Regions from separate parts of the Homo sapiens genome. Here region 2 is linked to region 1. A link means that fine-mapping ties the variant in region 1 to the expression of a gene that starts in the linked region. Tissue or cell type: blood mononuclear cells. Region 1 holds a variant in brackets; the other region holds the start of a gene. All regions are shown on one strand. Distances are from middle to middle.

Evidence for each region. PIP is the estimated chance that this variant, and not a neighbour inherited with it, causes the effect.
Region 2: CYB561 starts here. The variant in region 1 is fine-mapped to the expression of CYB561 in blood mononuclear cells (TOPMed, PIP 0.91).

What each region holds. Positions count from the first base shown.
Region 1 is chr17:63,606,923-63,615,026 of GRCh38, forward strand. TACO1 (translational activator of cytochrome c oxidase I) reads left to right here. Exons shown (of 5, transcript NM_016360.4): 4 at 365-542; 5 at 880-1,443. The coding sequence ends at 1,080. It also overlaps the pseudogene FAM136DP. Among named protein-coding and RNA genes, the nearest start is that of TACO1, 10 kb to the left of the region's middle. RefSeq lists enhancers at 3,684-4,184, 4,185-4,685. The variant T/A (reference allele first, on the strand shown) is at 3,423.
Region 2 is chr17:63,443,062-63,451,165 of GRCh38, forward strand. CYB561 (cytochrome b561) reads right to left here and starts at 3,245. Exons shown (of 6, transcript NM_001915.4): 1 at 3,184-3,245. RefSeq lists silencers at 2,942-3,501, 3,672-3,861 and enhancers at 3,831-4,644, 4,002-4,141, 4,645-5,457, 7,625-8,104.

The sequences.
Region 1 (8,104 bases):
TCCCAAAGACTTGTTCATCGGATGTAGAAGGGGATCTTTGTCCTATTATCCCCATCTGTAGCCATATAATGCCTAAGTCTTAAAATGCTCCACCAGGACTGGCATCTTAATGGCACAGGAAATTATCAGCTAAGTCTGCTTCCTCCCAACTGCAATCAGGGCAGAAAATCGAGCGTGGGGACATTCTTGGGCTGTTCCCTTACCCAGCAGCAGCTGCATTTTCTCCTTGAGGATGCGATCTGCTCCATGTCTGTGTGTACTTCATAGACTGGGTAAGAAAGAGACAGTGATAGAATGATGAGCTTTATGGAGGCTGAGCTTCTAGAGGCATCCACTCATGCCAGCCTGTTTCCTTCCCTGTCAGAGGAGTGATGGCTGTAGGAGCTCGTCACTCTTTTGACAAAAAGGGGGTGATTGTGGTTGAAGTGGAGGACAGAGAGAAGAAGGCTGTGAACCTAGAGCGTGCCCTGGAGATGGCAATCGAAGCAGGAGCTGAGGATGTCAAGGAAACTGAAGATGAAGAAGAAAGGAACGTTTTTAAAGTAAGCATGAAAACATGGGTGTTTGGTGGGCTTCCGGGAGGACCCTGATAGATGCCTTATGCATGCCTCTTGGTTTCTTCCTTCATGTGCCCCAGGGTATAGGTGAGACAGTTCACATATTGTACAAACATTTATTAAGTGAATACTGAATAGGACCGACTCTAGTGAGGACTATGAGAAAGAAAGAGTCAAAACATTGAAAACGATGTCCCTGCCAGTGAAGAGCTCAAACCCAGTGATCCATTCCAGTACTGACATTCAGGACTTTGCAAGGTCCTGTGTGGCTTTGTCTCATTACCTCCTGGCTCCTCACCTCCTGACTTTCCTTTATCCCTAGTTTATTTGTGATGCCTCTTCACTGCACCAAGTGAGGAAGAAGCTGGACTCCCTGGGCCTGTGTTCTGTGTCCTGTGCACTAGAGTTCATCCCCAACTCAAAGGTGCAGCTGGCTGAGCCCGACCTGGAACAGGCCGCACATCTCATTCAGGCTCTCAGCAACCACGAGGATGTGATTCACGTCTATGATAACATTGAATAACCAGGCTACATGTGCCCCCGGGTTCCTTCCTAGAAATGTGGCAGCCCATTCCAGCACACAGGCTTCTGCAGCAATCTCTGAGGGTAAAGCCGGTGGGAGGCTCAGCAGGCCAGGAGGCCCAAGGACAGGACTTGCGACCTTGAAGCCAAAGGAATCTCACTTGTGGGGCCTCCTTGTCAGCTCTGCTGCTGTCTCAGAGCCATCTGGATGAGTGTCCCGACACCCTCTCGGATGCAGGGCAGGACCACCCAGCTGGTCAGACTCTGATGTTGGGTAGCTGGCCTCTGTGGGGATTGTAAGTGCCCTGAGGCGCTCTGTACTAGAAACTGCTCTTAATAATAACGGTGATTATTGGTTGCTGCATTGCTGTTGTATGGCTCTTGAGTCTTCCTGAGTTTGTGTCCAGCTGTTGGGATCCTCTGGACTAACTTTCAAGTCCCTAGGCTTAGCTCTACTACTCCAATCCCAGGATTATTTTTTTAATTGGCCATAGAAATGTAGTTGTATCCAGGCACTCCATGGTCTGATGCTGGTCTTACAGCCTAAACCTGTCATTCATTCATGCAACTAATATTTCTGGAACACTAGCTATATACCAAGAACTGTACTTATCTAGAGCATAAGCTATTCAACTGGTGTCCTGTGTTAGATCCTGCTCTAGAAGGTAGGACCTGAACACAGGACTGCTCTTTACTGGAGCTGTCCCAGGGCAGTGTGAGCTGCTGTGCAAGCATCTGTTGCTCTCTTTGTGTGACTTCTGTGCCCTTCTTTCACCAAACAGCTTAAGGTTCTAGCCCAGTAGGAAATCAAGTGCCAGTGATAAGGGACTTGGCAGTGGCTCACACCTATAATCCCATCTACTCGAGAGGCTGAGGCGGGAGGATCACTTGAGCCCAGGAGTCTAAGGCTACAGTGAGCTATGATTGCACCATTGCATTCCAGCTTGGGTGACAGAGTGAGAACTCTTCTTTTTTTTTTTTTTTTTTTTTTTTTTGAGGCAGAGTCTCACTCTGTTGCCCAGGCTGGAGAGCAGTGGCACAATCTCAGCTCATTGCAGCCTTGACCTCCTGGACTCAAGCAGTCCTTCCACCTCAGCCTCCCAAGTAGCTAGAACTACAGGTGCATGCCACCACGCCCAGCTAATTTATATATATTTTTGTAGAGATGGGGTTTCACTATGTTGTCCAGGTTGGTGTCGAGCTCCTGAGCTCAAGTGGTCTGCACACTCGGCCTCCCAAAGTGCTGGGATTACAGGCATGAGCCACCACGCCCGGCTGAGTCTGTCTCTTTTTTTTTTGAGACAGAGTCTTGCTCTGTGGCCCAGGCTGGAGTGCAGTAGCATGATCTTGGCTCACTGCAACCTCCACCTCCCAGGTTCAAGTGATTCTCCTCCTTCAGCCTCCCAAGTAGCTGGGATTACAAGCAGGCACCACCATGCCCGGCTAATTTTTTTGTGGAGGGGGAGGGGAGAAAATTAAACTTTATTTATTTTTAAAAGCAAACCACCGGGAAAATATAACACAGCCTGGAAGCAGCAAATGGACAGGCTATATTATCATTTCAAGTAGTAAGTTGATGAAAATACAATGAGGTTGCTATCAAAACAATAACGTGCCATGCCGGGGCAGGAACACTGCAAGTTGCGAAAGCCCCAGGCAAAAATGGTTTTTGGTACTGGGGTCTGCCTCTCCTTTGCTATAAGGGAGTCAGCTCATCCTAGCCCAAGTTGCTTACTTTTTCTTCCTTGGATTTCCTGTTGCCAGGGTTTGTCTCAATTGTGCTTTGTTAATTCAGGGGGCTAAGTAGGCAGTGCTAGGTTTAGGCTTTCATTCCATCCGTTCTATAAAAACCAGGTTTTTCCAAATCCAGTACTTCATAACTCTGTTATAATCAAGTAGCCAACTGCTCTTCTTTTACTGTTCATTTCTAGATACTAGTATATATCACAATCAAAACCCCCTTCTCTTCACCGGGAAAGTGTTACTGCAAGATTGTCCTGTCATTTTGCTACACACAGCCTCGGCCCATCAGCCAGTAATTATGCTTCCCATAATTAGTATGTCATCACCTCTCATGTTTTTGCATGGTCTCCAGGCTGAAAGATGCAGCATGTAATAATTTTAAGAAATCTACATCTACATCTTGATGACCAGAAATGGGGATCCTCAAGGAAACTTTCAAAGTTCTTATCCAAACTAGTCTCCCTCCCAATTCCACATCTTAAAATCAATTTGTATCGCCTTGTATAAATTACACAAAACCAAGAAAACAAAGACCCAGAAAACTTTTTTGCCCTTCTAAGCGGGTGACCTCATGGATTTTGTTTCACAGCTTACGGAAAA[T/A]GGTGTGGTGACACTTCTGGTAAACAGGATGTTGGCAACAAAGAGAAAATATCTCTCCTCAAACTCCACCAACTCTAACCTGCCAGCCTGTTGGTACCTGTGTAATAAGAAGAGTTTAGTGCCTTGGAGGGCTCTGGCTTGTTACAGGGGAGATCCTTACTGGCAGGACAAGCACTGGCCATAGGATATATAAGCTCTAAAACTCTCCTGTAATATCTCTGACCCAATTTAGCACCACTTTTTTCCATTTCATTTTTTAGGACTGAAACATAAAAGAACCAGTGTCCAGAGGCAAGTGACATATGTCTTACACTTGTGGCCATCCTTCATTTCTTCATAAACTTTGCTTAAAAGACTAAAATTCCCAATTCCTTATAAAAAATATATTCTTGCCCTCAGCCCCAGTGGCCACTGGCAAAGACTGTTATTTCCCAATGGATAAGAGAGCCTCCTTCATCTTCTTGGCCATAGTTGGGATGAGGTGCGTGTGGTCATCCACACACTTGGTCACACAACCGTCCAGCTGCTGCTTCACCTGAAGCTCCTTACTCCCAGTATCCATTGAATCTTTGGCTTTGTTGTTGCAATGCATGGCGCACCGGGCCAGGTGGTGCCGGAACTTCTCCAACTCACTGGTGAGCAAAGCCCGGGCTTGAGCCAGAGGCACATGGCAGTGCTTTGATGTACTGGTGCACCTACTGCATGGAGGCCTGGCTGTCCTCACAACAGCTGGTGCTGCACCGGAACATGAGACCCTGCATCTTCCAGATGTTCTCTCTCTCCAGACTCTTCACCATGGAGTCCACCACCTCCTGCACCCACAGCTGCTGCAGCTCTGCCATGGCGTCCCCATACCGCCCTGCACCGTGCCACCCCGGCTAATTTTTGTATCTTTAGTAGAGACCAGGTTTGGCCATGTTGGCCAGGCTGGTCTCGAACTCCTGACCTTAGGTGATCCGTCCATCTTGGCCTCCCAAAGTGCTGGGATTACAGGCATGAGCCATGGCGCCCAGCCTCTGTCTTTCAAAAAAAAAAAAAGGGACTTACTAGGGCCTGCTTTGCCTGGGTCCCTATGCATCCTGGGATTGGTCAGAGTGAACCAATGAGAAGACTGAGCTGCTCTCAAGAAGGGCTACCACAAGCTGGTTTTGAAAGCTTCTTGGTTCTGAGAACAACCAGCCCTAGATCCTTTTCATCTCTGATGCCAAATGATGTGGCACTGAGAACTGAAGAGGAAACGTGAACAGAAAGAAGAGTGAGGGCTGAATAAGAAGCCTCGCCAGTGGGAAATAGGGCCCTTGGTACCTTTTGCTCCTAATAGTCACATCTGTGTTTAGAAGGGCCAGGAACTCCCACCTCCTGCGTCAGAGCCTGTCAAGCATGTCAGGCCTAGAGTGGCTTTCTGATCCCTGTTATACACCTATTTATAAGTTATCTAAGCTAATTCTGAGCTCAGAGTAATTTTCCTGAAGGAGCTTCAGGTAAATAAGGATGACAAAGAACTAAAACCAAATTTACTGTAAATGATAACTTCAGCTTCTAAGAAAAGAATTACTGACTCCACACTGATGTCAATAGCTGGAGAGCAAGGGCTACGAGGAAGAAAACCAGTGAAATAATCCATGGTCATGCCACTTGCCCAAATATCTGAATTGCTTATCATTAAAAAAGAGCAAATTTACGTTTATATGTGGCTTCATAATTTGTAAGATACGTTTACATGTTATTTATTTGATTTTCCCAACAAACCTATAAAACACTTTGGCCAAGTATTTTATGCACAAATGATCTCATACCAAGCAGGAAAGAACAGGTCTTACACTGATAGACCTTGGTGTTTATAAAATAGCTCTGTTTTGGAAATTAATTTGGAGGAATCTTATTTATAATCTGAGAAATCTGTACTAAGGGAGTCTGCTCTTAAAGGGAACATGGCTAGTCATGTGAATAGATCTCTAATGTAGCATATAGAATCTTTATTAATATGGATTGTTGCATAACCAATTATCTTACATCAAGACATGCTTACTGTAAGGCACAGTAAAGGCTCCTGTGATGATGGCTCTGCACTGACCCCTAGTGGTGCCCTGCAGTCTCTCTCCTGCAGTTAATAGGAAAGGCAGAAATGAACCCTTCTTGAATTTGTTCTGCTGTCTCTAGATCTGGAAAAGAGACCCTGAGCTATTCAAATAAAGATGGTCACGGCCGGGTGCGGTGGCTCCCGCTTGTAATCCCAGCACTTTGGGAAGCCGAGGCGGGTGGATTACCTGAGGTCAGGAATTCGAGACTAGCCTGGCCAACATGGTGAAACCCCGTCTCTACTAAAAATACAAAAATTAGCCAGGCATGGTGGCAGGCGCCTGTAGTCCCAGCTACTCAGGAGGCTGAGGCAGGAGAATCACTTGAACCCGGGAGGTGGAGGTTGCAGTGAGCCGAGATCACACCATTGCACTCCAGCCTGGGGCACAAGAGCGAGACTCCGTCTCAAAAAAAAAACATTAAAGATGGTTACATCCATATGCCAAGGTATTATGTTGCCACTAAAAATTATTTTTTAAAGAATCTTTTGTCAGAGAAAATGTTTAGAATATAACATTAAGTGGGAAAAAAGATACAAAACTACATGTATAGTGTGGTCCAAATTTTGAAATAGATATGTATATATTTATTTAACATATTATATATATGAACTTTTTAAAAAAGACTAGAAGGAAATGTACTAAAATATCAAAACAGGTTATCTCAGGGTAGTGATGTTATTACTGAGCTTTATATTCTGTAATCATGTTTTCCTTTTTTCTTTCTTTCTTTTCTTTTCTTAAGAGATGGTGTCTTCCCGGCCGGGCGCGGTGGCTCACGCCTGTAATCCCAGCACTTTGGGAGGCCGATGTGTGTGGATCATAAGGTCAGGAGTTCGAGACCAGCCTGGCCAATGTGGTGAAACCCCGTCTCTACTAAAAATATAAAAATTGGCTGGGCGTGGTGGCGGGCGCCTGTAATCCCAGCTACTTGGGAAGCTGAGGCAGGAGAGTCATTTGAACCCAGGAGGCGGAAGTTGCAGTGAGCCAAGATCGCACCACTGCACTCCAGCCTGGGCGACAGAGCAAGACTCCGTCTCACCGAAAAAAGAAAAAAAAGAGAGAGAGAGAGATGGGGTCTTCCTGTGTAAGGCTGGTTTTGAATTCCTGGCTCCTAGGGATCCTCTTGCCTCAGCCTCCCAAAGTGCTGGGATTATAGGTGTGAGCCACTGTGCCCAGCCCCCATGTTTTACTTTTATCAGGTGACATAATTAAAAAAAAACCAAAAGCTAGTCTCACAGCATCTGAGAGTCTGGGAGTCAGATGCATGTTAAAGTCAGAGGAATGAGGTCCAGTGCTGGCTTGGCTTGCTTTGCCTTATCTTTGGTTATTGTCTTAGCAACATAAAATTATTCAAGGTCTTGAAGCCACCTTGGGCTTACCTTCAAGTGTCCTTTTAGTGGGACAGAAGTATCTGTGATAGGCTCTGTTCACAGTCTTGACTGTTATAAGAAGCACTCTTGTGCGTAGCCACCTCCCCTCTGCTAGAGGCCCTGGCTGAATCCAAGAGGAACAGCAAAGGCTGTGCCTCCAACCAACTGTGGAAATTCAGCCATGTGGTTGAGTTACTTTTTTTTCTCTGAAACTTATAGCAGTCAATAAATTTTCAAACTCGAAGAGCCCCCAATTCCCAGACTTATTTGAATCCCCAAAGACACTTCTGGAGACATTCTCTTCACAGAAAATAAGTCTGGCAAAAGGGAATGCGATGATAGATCCACAATACTCTTTTTCTTTTCCTTTTCCTTTCCTTTCTTTCTTTCTTTTCTTTTCTTTTTTTTGTGTGTGTGTGTGTGTAACAGGGTCTTTGTCAGCCAAGCTGGAGTGCAGTGGCACAACCATCGCTCACTGCAGCCTCAACCTCTCAGGCTCAAGCAATCCTTCTGCTTCAGCCTCCTTGCATGCCACCATGCCCGGTTATTTTATGTTTTGAAGAGATGGGGTATTGCTATGTTGACAGGGCTGGTCTTGAACTCCTGGGCTCAAGTGATCCTCCCATCTTGGCCTCCTGAAGTGCTGGGATTACAGGTATGAGCCATCAGCCTGGTGCCACACTACTCTTAACTGAAATTATTCTATGTCCAGCCAGTGAACAGGATAGCATTTTTACTTCTTTGTTCTTTTTATTTTTTGTGTATGCCCAAAAGGTAACATTTATTGTCTTTAAAAAGGCAAATCTTACATAAATAAATAACAACAACAACAACAACAAAATTCCCATTTAATTCTACCTCCTAAGATACAACCACCATTAACGATTTATATTTTTTCACTCTTTGGAGCCAGTCTGCTAGGGACCAAATTCTAGCTCTGCCAACAGCTAGCAACCTTGGACAAGAACTTAACCTCTTTGTACATGCTTCTTTACCTGTAAAATGGGGGTAATGATAGTACCGATTACATGCGGCTGTTTTGAGAATTAAGTTAATATATGTTAAGCACTTGAAACAGCACCTGGCAATAGTTAAGTGTTCAATAAATGTTGGCCTTTTTCTAAGTGTGAATGAGCATTTTTTTTTTCATTAAAAAATTTTTTTGGCCAGGCATGGTGGCTAATGCCTGCAATCCTAGCACTTTGGGAGGCCGAGGCAGGTGGATTGCCTG
Region 2 (8,104 bases), 160 kb before region 1:
GATATCTCTTCTTGATGGGTGAAGGGGAAAACAGCTCAATTGCCCTAGAGCGTCCTAGCATGTGATGAAGGAGAAAGCAAAGTGTGGTGTGAGCTATTAGGGTACTTTCTTAGCACCCCAGTAGCCCCAGGAAGAAGGGGCTTCCCAGGCAGTGCTCCCCATCCCATGCCAGTCCTCCTGCATCCTCCCCACGCTTGTACCAGCATGGCACTAAGCCCTGGTGCATGCAGAGACACCAGGCCCTGACCAAAGGGTAAGAGAGAAGGCATTACAGGAGGGTGAACAAGCCGCAGGGGCTGCATTTCCATTTATCCTAGGGCGGCTGTCCTGGCCCAGGCAGCCCAGGGACCCGGGGTATCCAGGCTGCTTGGACCAGGTACCAAGGAACTAGGTACCCAGGAAGCAGCAGAGCCTGAAGTCAAACACTGAGCTCCTTTCTCCCACAAGACAGAGGGCTCCCAATGCTTACAAACCAAAATGTTTCCATTTCCATGAAAATCAGAAGAAAAAAATGAACATTTAGGGTTGAGGAAAATGTTGCAATTTTTTAAAACTTATTTTAATTAATTTTTTTGTTGTTGTTGTTAACAGTGTCTACCTCTGTCACCCAGGCTGGAATACGATGGCATGATCATAGCTCACAGCAGCCTCGAACTCCTGGGCTCGAGGGATCCTCCCACCTCAGCCTCTCAAGTAGCTGGAACTACAGCTATGCTGAAATGCCCAGTTAATTTTTTCTTTTTTTGGAGAGATAGGGTCTCACTATGTTGTGCAGGCTAGTCTCAAACTCCTGGTCTCAAGCAGTCCTCCTGCCCCAGCCTCCCAAAGCTCTGGGATTACAGACAGACATGAGCCAGCCCTAAAATGTTTTGTTTTTAAAATTAATTGTAATCCAGTCTGGACTATACTTGTATTTATACCAATGCAGTTGTAAAATATAATTTTTATTAATTTTTTTTTTTTTGAGGCTGGAGTGCAATGGCAAGATCTCGGGTCACCGCAACCTCTGCCTTCCGGGTCCAAGCAATTCTCCTGCCTCAGACTCCCCGAGTCTGGGATTACAGGCGTGCTCCACGATGCCTGGCTAATTTTTTGTATCTTTTGTAGAGACGCGCTTTCACCACTGCGCCGGGCCAATTGTTATTATTTTTTTTATGGAAGACGGGGCCCGTGAAGGCCAGAGGGCCAACGGCCCATGAAAGGCCCAGCGCAGCCCAGGTTAGAGAGATGTGATTTCAAAACAGACTCATTATTTATAACCATCAGCTCCTGGACAAGCCAAGTCCCTTCTCCAAGCCTGCTTCCTAATCTATAAAGTGGAGGATATCTGGAGCTACCTTATTGAACACAGAAGGAGTAAGTGGATAAAGGTGTGCCAGCGCCCAGCACAGTGCCTGCCACAAAGTAGGCATTCCATCAAAGACCAATCTTACAAAAACGAAATCTGGTCCTAAGAGCACCTTAGAAAGAGTCACACTGCTGACACATGAGGTTTGGGGCCACAGAGAGCCAGATGGCAGCCGTCTCTAATAAATCTACACTCCATTGCTGTCCACCATTAGCCCCTGCACACCAAGCAGAAGCTCCTGGGGCTGGAAGAACACAGGATGGTCTGCTTTTAATCTGTGACATTGTATATTCCCAAAATTCATTTATGAATTGTTCAGACAGTAGAGTGCTTTTTCCCAGTGAAGCTACGCTTTCAGAGGGGGTTAATTTCTCATTCCCCTCCACCAATGCCATCTAATGCCACTGAACCATCCCAGTATTAGCAGGAGCCCAAGCTCTGCCTGCCAAGGAAAAGTGGTGAGGGCAGAAAAGTAGTAGGACAAGGCTGGGCACGGTGGCTCACGTCTGTAATCCTAGCACTTTGGGATGCCAAGGCGGGCAGATCACTTGAGGTTAGGAGTTCGAGACCAGCCTGGCCAACATGGTGAAACCCCGTCTCTCCTAAAAATGCAAAAATTAGCTGCGTGTTGTGGCACACACCTGTAATCCCAGCTACTAGGGAGGCTGGAACAGGAGAATCGCTTGAACCCGGAAGATGGAGGTTGCAGTGAGCTGATATTGCCCTCTGCACTCCAGCCTCCTGGCAACAGAGCAAGACTCCATCTCAAAAAAAAAAGAAGGAAGGAAAGTAAGGAAAGCAAGAAAGCAATAAAGCAAGAAAGAAAAGGAGTGGGACAAGCAGGGTGGTTCCACCTCCAGCTCTAGGAGGCTCCCTCATGCAAGGAGGTGGGGCTGCCACCGCCTCGTATTTTCCTGCCTCCATCAAATTTCACCGGGAGAAATCCAGGCACCTAGAGGAGGTGGCAAAGCTTTTTTTTTTTTTTTTTCATTAGCTATTAAACCAAAGGGGCAGAATCTAGGCGCCCTAGATGTAACTTCATTTACGGAGTCAGAAAATCCACAAAGGCTGCCAAGGTGGAATGAATGAGAGGAGGACGACCAGAAAGGAGAAGTCTGGGAAGGGGACCCCAGATCCACACGGATGATCCTCGCTCCGTGATACAGTCGGGGACAGGGCAGGGAGGGAGGGAGGGAGGGTGGCCCTGCCATCTCCCAGGTGTCAAGGTGGCGGCAGCTCCGCCCTCAGCGCAGTTGGCACCGGCCTGACCCACCACAGGGCCACCGAGGCCACCGAAGCCATGGGGCTTTCCCACTCGGGAAACTCCCACCCTCGCGCTCAGAAGCTGGGGGCGTCGGGAGACACAGGCGGGGACCTGCGGCTCCACGTTGCAGCCCGGGCCCTGCTCGGGGCAAGAGGCGGTGGCTCCGGTTTCAGATTTCAAGAGGGCAGCCGTGGCAAAGGCTGGTTGGTCCATTTGCACCCTACCTTGCTCTAGAACGCGGCGCAGGAGCAAAGATCCAAACTCGGGGTCACCAGCAAGCGGGGGTCTCGGTTCTAACTTCAGCAGAGACCCGGCACCCGGGCAGGCCAGGGCAGGGGCCGCCTGGACCGGGAGAGGCTCGGCTCCGAGAGGGCGGGCGAGCCCTGCAGCCCTCGGGCCCAGGGTGCGGGTCGGCGCCGCAGTCCAGTGCGCGGCCGCAAGGGGCAGGTGCGAGGCCGGCTGCTACTCGGGAGCCCCGCGCTGTCCCTCCCTGCGCAGTCAGGGCTCACCTGGGCCGCCCCCGCCCCGCACCCCTGCGCGCTCCGCTCCCACCCCCAGCCCGGCCTCCTACCTTGCCTACCCGAGCGTCCCTTCAGCCTCCCCGCGCCGCGCCCGGGTCGCTTGGCCGGTTCTGCGGGCCGTGGCGCGACGGCGTCGCCATGGCAACCGGGCGGCGGGCTGGGCGGTGTCTCCGGGACCGGAAGTGGCGTACGCGGCCCCCGGGGCTGCCCCGCACGTGCCAGGTCCCCGCGGTTGCGGCCACGCTCGGGACCGGGCCCTGCCAGCTCCGGGCCCGCACGTGGGCGAACCGCGGCCACCGTGAGCCCGGCCTCGCGACCTCCCTCCGGGGCCCCCATGATCGGGGGTGCGTGGGATCTGCGGCCTGCGGGGGTGGAGGGCCGGGAGCTCCCCCGGGCCTGCCTCGAGGGCCGCGGGATTCGTCCTTGCGAGCCCCGACTGCGCACGGAAGGACCTGGGGTCGGCCAGGCCTGGGGGATGGGACGGGCCCCGAGGAGAGCGGGTGCCAGGGGCGAGACCCGCCGCCCTTCCCCGGCTTGGTCCCGCGCTTCCTGATTTTCTCGCTCCACGCCTCCCATTCTGCCCTCCACCTTCTTCCCTGCCCCGCCCTCGCCCTGCCCGGGCCCAGGAGGCCACTAGATGTCAGACCCGGTTCGGGCCTTGGCCACGCCGCCGCTCCGGGAGCCCTGGGGGCACCTCCCCAGCCCCCACGGGGGAGACGATACTGCCGGGAAGGCCCGGACTAGCCCCCGCCCCCGCAGAGTAGCCTTCGGGGAACACCGATTCCACCAGGCTCTCACGAAAGCCGAGAGCTTGCCGTCCGCAGCTTCCCCTGCCCAAAGCGCAGAGAAACGAGGGCGCCGAGGCCAAGACCAAGACCGGGAGCCAGCCCCTTCGGAGCCCGGTCCAGGCCCCCGGTCCAGGAAGTGCTGTGGGTAGATAAGGGGCCCAGCTCAGACTTCCTACAAGCTGGGAAGAAAGGGTTCTTTCCTGTCTGATGCCGGGCCAGATGTAGCAAGCGCCTAGGGGTAGGAGGGAAATGGGGTTTCCTCCCCGCAGAGGGAAACCGGCCTCCATTCAGGAACGCCCTCCCCCACCTGCCCTCCAGGCACCGAGGTTCTGGGAGGCCGGGGGGCAGGGAGACCTGCTTACTTGAATGCGCTTTGTGTATTGCCTGTGTATTGCCACAGGCAGTGGGCAAGATAGGCCCTGGGGATCCAGTACTCGCTTAGTACACAGAGAGCAGTCTCCAGCGCCAGGCGAGACGCACAGGCGTGTCAGCTGCATATGGCACACGGTGGCACATGGCACACCTTCCACGAGCAGACACAAGGGGCCGACACAGCAGGGCCCACCCCCTCAGAGGGACCAAGCTTAAACCCTCCAACAACAGAAAATTTGTAGAGTATCTTTCAGTTGGAGGAAATTAATGGATAATTTAAAGTAAGAAACAGTTTCCTTAGCGTGCTAACAGGCAGAATCCCTGTGGATTGAAGGTGGAACTGAGCCATGTCCTTTGTTTGGTCTGTGGATTTAGACGTGGAGGAGGAGTCCTGACCGGCTGAGCAGGGCTGAGTTCCCTCGTGAGAGCCCCGGGCCTTCAGCCCCTTCCAAAGCCAGGAGAGACTCCTGCTGAGGGGTGATAGGGGCCCTTTGGCTTCCCCCTCACCCCACGGCCCAGCAGCACGGGGCTGCAGGCTTTTCCCTTAGGAGGAAGAGCAGCCGCCTCCCTGCCAGCAGTGTTCTCAAGGGCCTGCTTCAAGTGGGGAGGGGTGGGTGAGGGTGTTCTGACTGAGGGAGAGGCCTGCACACCCGCTGCATGGGGGGGCTCATGGCTACACCTAACCCATTTTAAAGAACAGGCAACGCCACCAAACTGCTCTCTGGCACTAGGGCCCAGAGGCCTTGCCCCAGCTCCCAGATGTCCCAACCCAGGACGACAGACACCCAGACTAACTACCTTGCAACCCTGTTCCTGCTGCCGAAGCTCCTGCCTTGGAAGCCTGAGAAGTGTGCAGTCCTTCAGCTTGGGAAAGGTGGGAAAGGAGAGGACCCCTCCTGCCCTTTCTTGAGTGGCACAAGATGAGTTCCAGGGCCTCCTGAGTTGTGCTAACGCCTGTAATCCCAGCACTTTGGGAGGCCGAGGCGGGCGGATCACCTGAGATCGGGAGCTAGAGACCAGCCTGACCAACGTGGAGAAACCCCATCTCTACTAAAAATACAAAATTAGCCGGGCGGGGTGGCACATGCCTGTAATCCCAGCTACTCCGGAGGCTGAGGCAAGAGAATCACTTGAACCCAGGAGGCAGAGGTTGTGGTGAGCCAAGACCGCGCCATTACACTCCAGCCTGGACAACAAGAGCAAAACTCCGTCTCAAAAAAAAAAAAAAAAAAAAAAGGAAATGCTGACTGTGTTTCCATGTTTCCACTCCCTTCCCACATCGCAGAACCACGCTAGCCTTTCTGTTTTCAGATGCACCAAGTTCACTCCCACCTCTCCATGGAATGTTCTTTCCTGGATCATCTCTGGTCACATTCTCTCAAATCTCAGCTCAAACATCACCTCCTCAGGCCTTCCCTGACCATCCAGAGGGCAGCTGGGGCAGGGATTAGGAGGTAGGAGTGCTCCTGGATTCCGCGTGCTGGGCAGCCAGGCCTAGAGTGCCCCCTGGTCTCTGACAGAAAGCATTTAAGGAGGAGGAAGCATCAAGGAAGCAGGCAGAATGTGAATAGAGAGCTGGAGACTCAGGCCGTAGACCCACCTGGCACCTGGCTAGTCACTTCTCCCTTGCTAGGGTTACCAGATTCAGAAAGAAGAGGAAAAAATAAAAAAAGGCTTCCCAGTTAAATTCAAATTCAGGCCGGGTGCGGTGGCTCACACCTGTAATCCCAGCACTTTGGGATGCCGAGGTGGGTGGATCACCTGAGGTCAAGAGTTCGAGACCAGCCTGACCAACAAGGTGAAACCCCGTCTCTACTAAAAATACAAAAATTAGCTGGGCAAGGTGGCAGGCACCTGTAATCCCAGCTACTTGGGAGGCTGAGACAGGAGAATTGCTTGAACCCAGGAGGCGGAGGTTGCAGTGAGCCAAGATTGTGCCACTGCACTCCAGCCTGGGCAATGGAGTGAGACTCCATCTCAAAAAAAGAAAACCAAAAAAAAATTCAAATTCAGTTAGTTTTTTCAGCATGAGCATGTCCCAAATATTACATGCAGTATACTAAAGATGTATTCCAGCTGGGTGCCATGGCTCATGCCTGTAATCCCAGCACTTTGGGAGGCTGAGGTGAGCGGATCACTTGAGGTCAGGAGTCCAAGACCAGCCTGCCAATGAGGCAAAACCCTGTCTCTACTAAAAACACAACAATTAGCCAGGCATGGTGGTGGATGCCTGTAATCCCAGCTACTGGGGAGGCTACGACAGGAGAATGGCATGAACCCAAGAGGTAGAGGTTGAAATGAGCCAAGATCATGCCACTGCACTCCAGCCTGGGGTGACAGAGAGAGAATCTGTCTTAAAAAAAAGATGTATTCCTCACATGTGAGCAGATGTCCTGTGTTTCATCTGACAATCCTACTGCTCTTGCTCGGGTGTGGGAAGGGCAGGGGCCCAGTTCTAGCCCCTCCCAGCAATGGCTTCCTCCCTCATCTCTGAACCAGTTAACCCTCATTCAGTAGGGACTTCAGGCAGAGGCCCTGACCTTGGGCAGCAGAGGATACAAAGGGATAAGAGATGGTTCCCCAGTCCTCAGACACTATAAGATTCAAATGCACACCATTCATTCTTGGGAAAGTTTTATTTTTGTACCTTCTCTGTGCCAGGCACTAGGTGAGGTATTGGGGAACAGTGAACAAGACAGGCACCACCCTGTTCTCACAGGCCTTCAGTCAGGGGAGCTGCACAGAGATTTGGGGAGAGCCTTTGAAACTACTCTGCCCAAGCCCATCTCTGACCACCTTACAGAGGGAAAACCAGGATTAGGTACAGGGCATAGGAAGGCCCTCAACCCAGATGTGAGGGTCAGGGAAGGCGTATTGGGTCATGACAGAATTATCGAGCCAGAAGATGCTCAGGTGTTAACCCGGCAGAGATAGTCAGGGAGGAGGCAGGAGTGTCCCTGGTTAGAGGAGCAAGGATGATGCAAGGGAAGGCTGTAGGGGGCTAACCTGCAACCCTCGGGGCTCCCAGGCTTATTTTCATGAGGATTTGCCGGAGCCAGAGTAATAGTGCAGAACTGAGCCACAGCCTGCAGAATCAGCACTCAGGAGCCAAGCCCTGTCCAGCTCAGGAGGGGGCCTGCCCTGAGGGACCTCACAATTGACAGACACAGCCCCCGACCCCATATCCTGCAGTGGAGCAGCCTTAAGTCCGCAGGTATCATCTTCCGGGCCTGCTCCCTGAGGAACTTGAAAGTACGAGGCTACTTTGATGAGCTTAAAATAGACCAATTAATCACTCAGGGAGGAAATCCATCTCCCAGCTTCGGGGGAGGGGACAGGAAAGCAGTAGCCCCGGCAGGACCCGTCAGAGCAGCCAGCAGCACAGCGGCCATGTGGCAGGGCACCTGCAAGGCTTCCGGAGCCACCGACGAAGACCCTGAGTCACCTGCAGCCTCTGGAGTGTGGGGGGAAGGAGGCTGAGGGACGTCATTGCCTGTGAGTTGTCACCCTGCCCCTGGTTAACCCCAAGGCTGGTCAGTCTGGGAAAAACAAGACAGACAAAAGAGCCAAATACCACTGGGGCAAGAGGGAGGGAGAGGCCATGACAGAGAGGACAGTTAAGCCACCTTTTTTTTTTTTTTAAGACGGAGTTTCGCTCTCCTTGTCCAGGCTGGAGTGCAATGACAGCTCACTGCAACCGCCGCCTCCGTGGTTCAAGTGATCCTCCTGCCTCAGCCTCCCAAGTAGCTGGGATTACAGGAATGCACCACCACGCCTGGCTAATTTTGTATTTTTAGTAGAGACGGGGTTT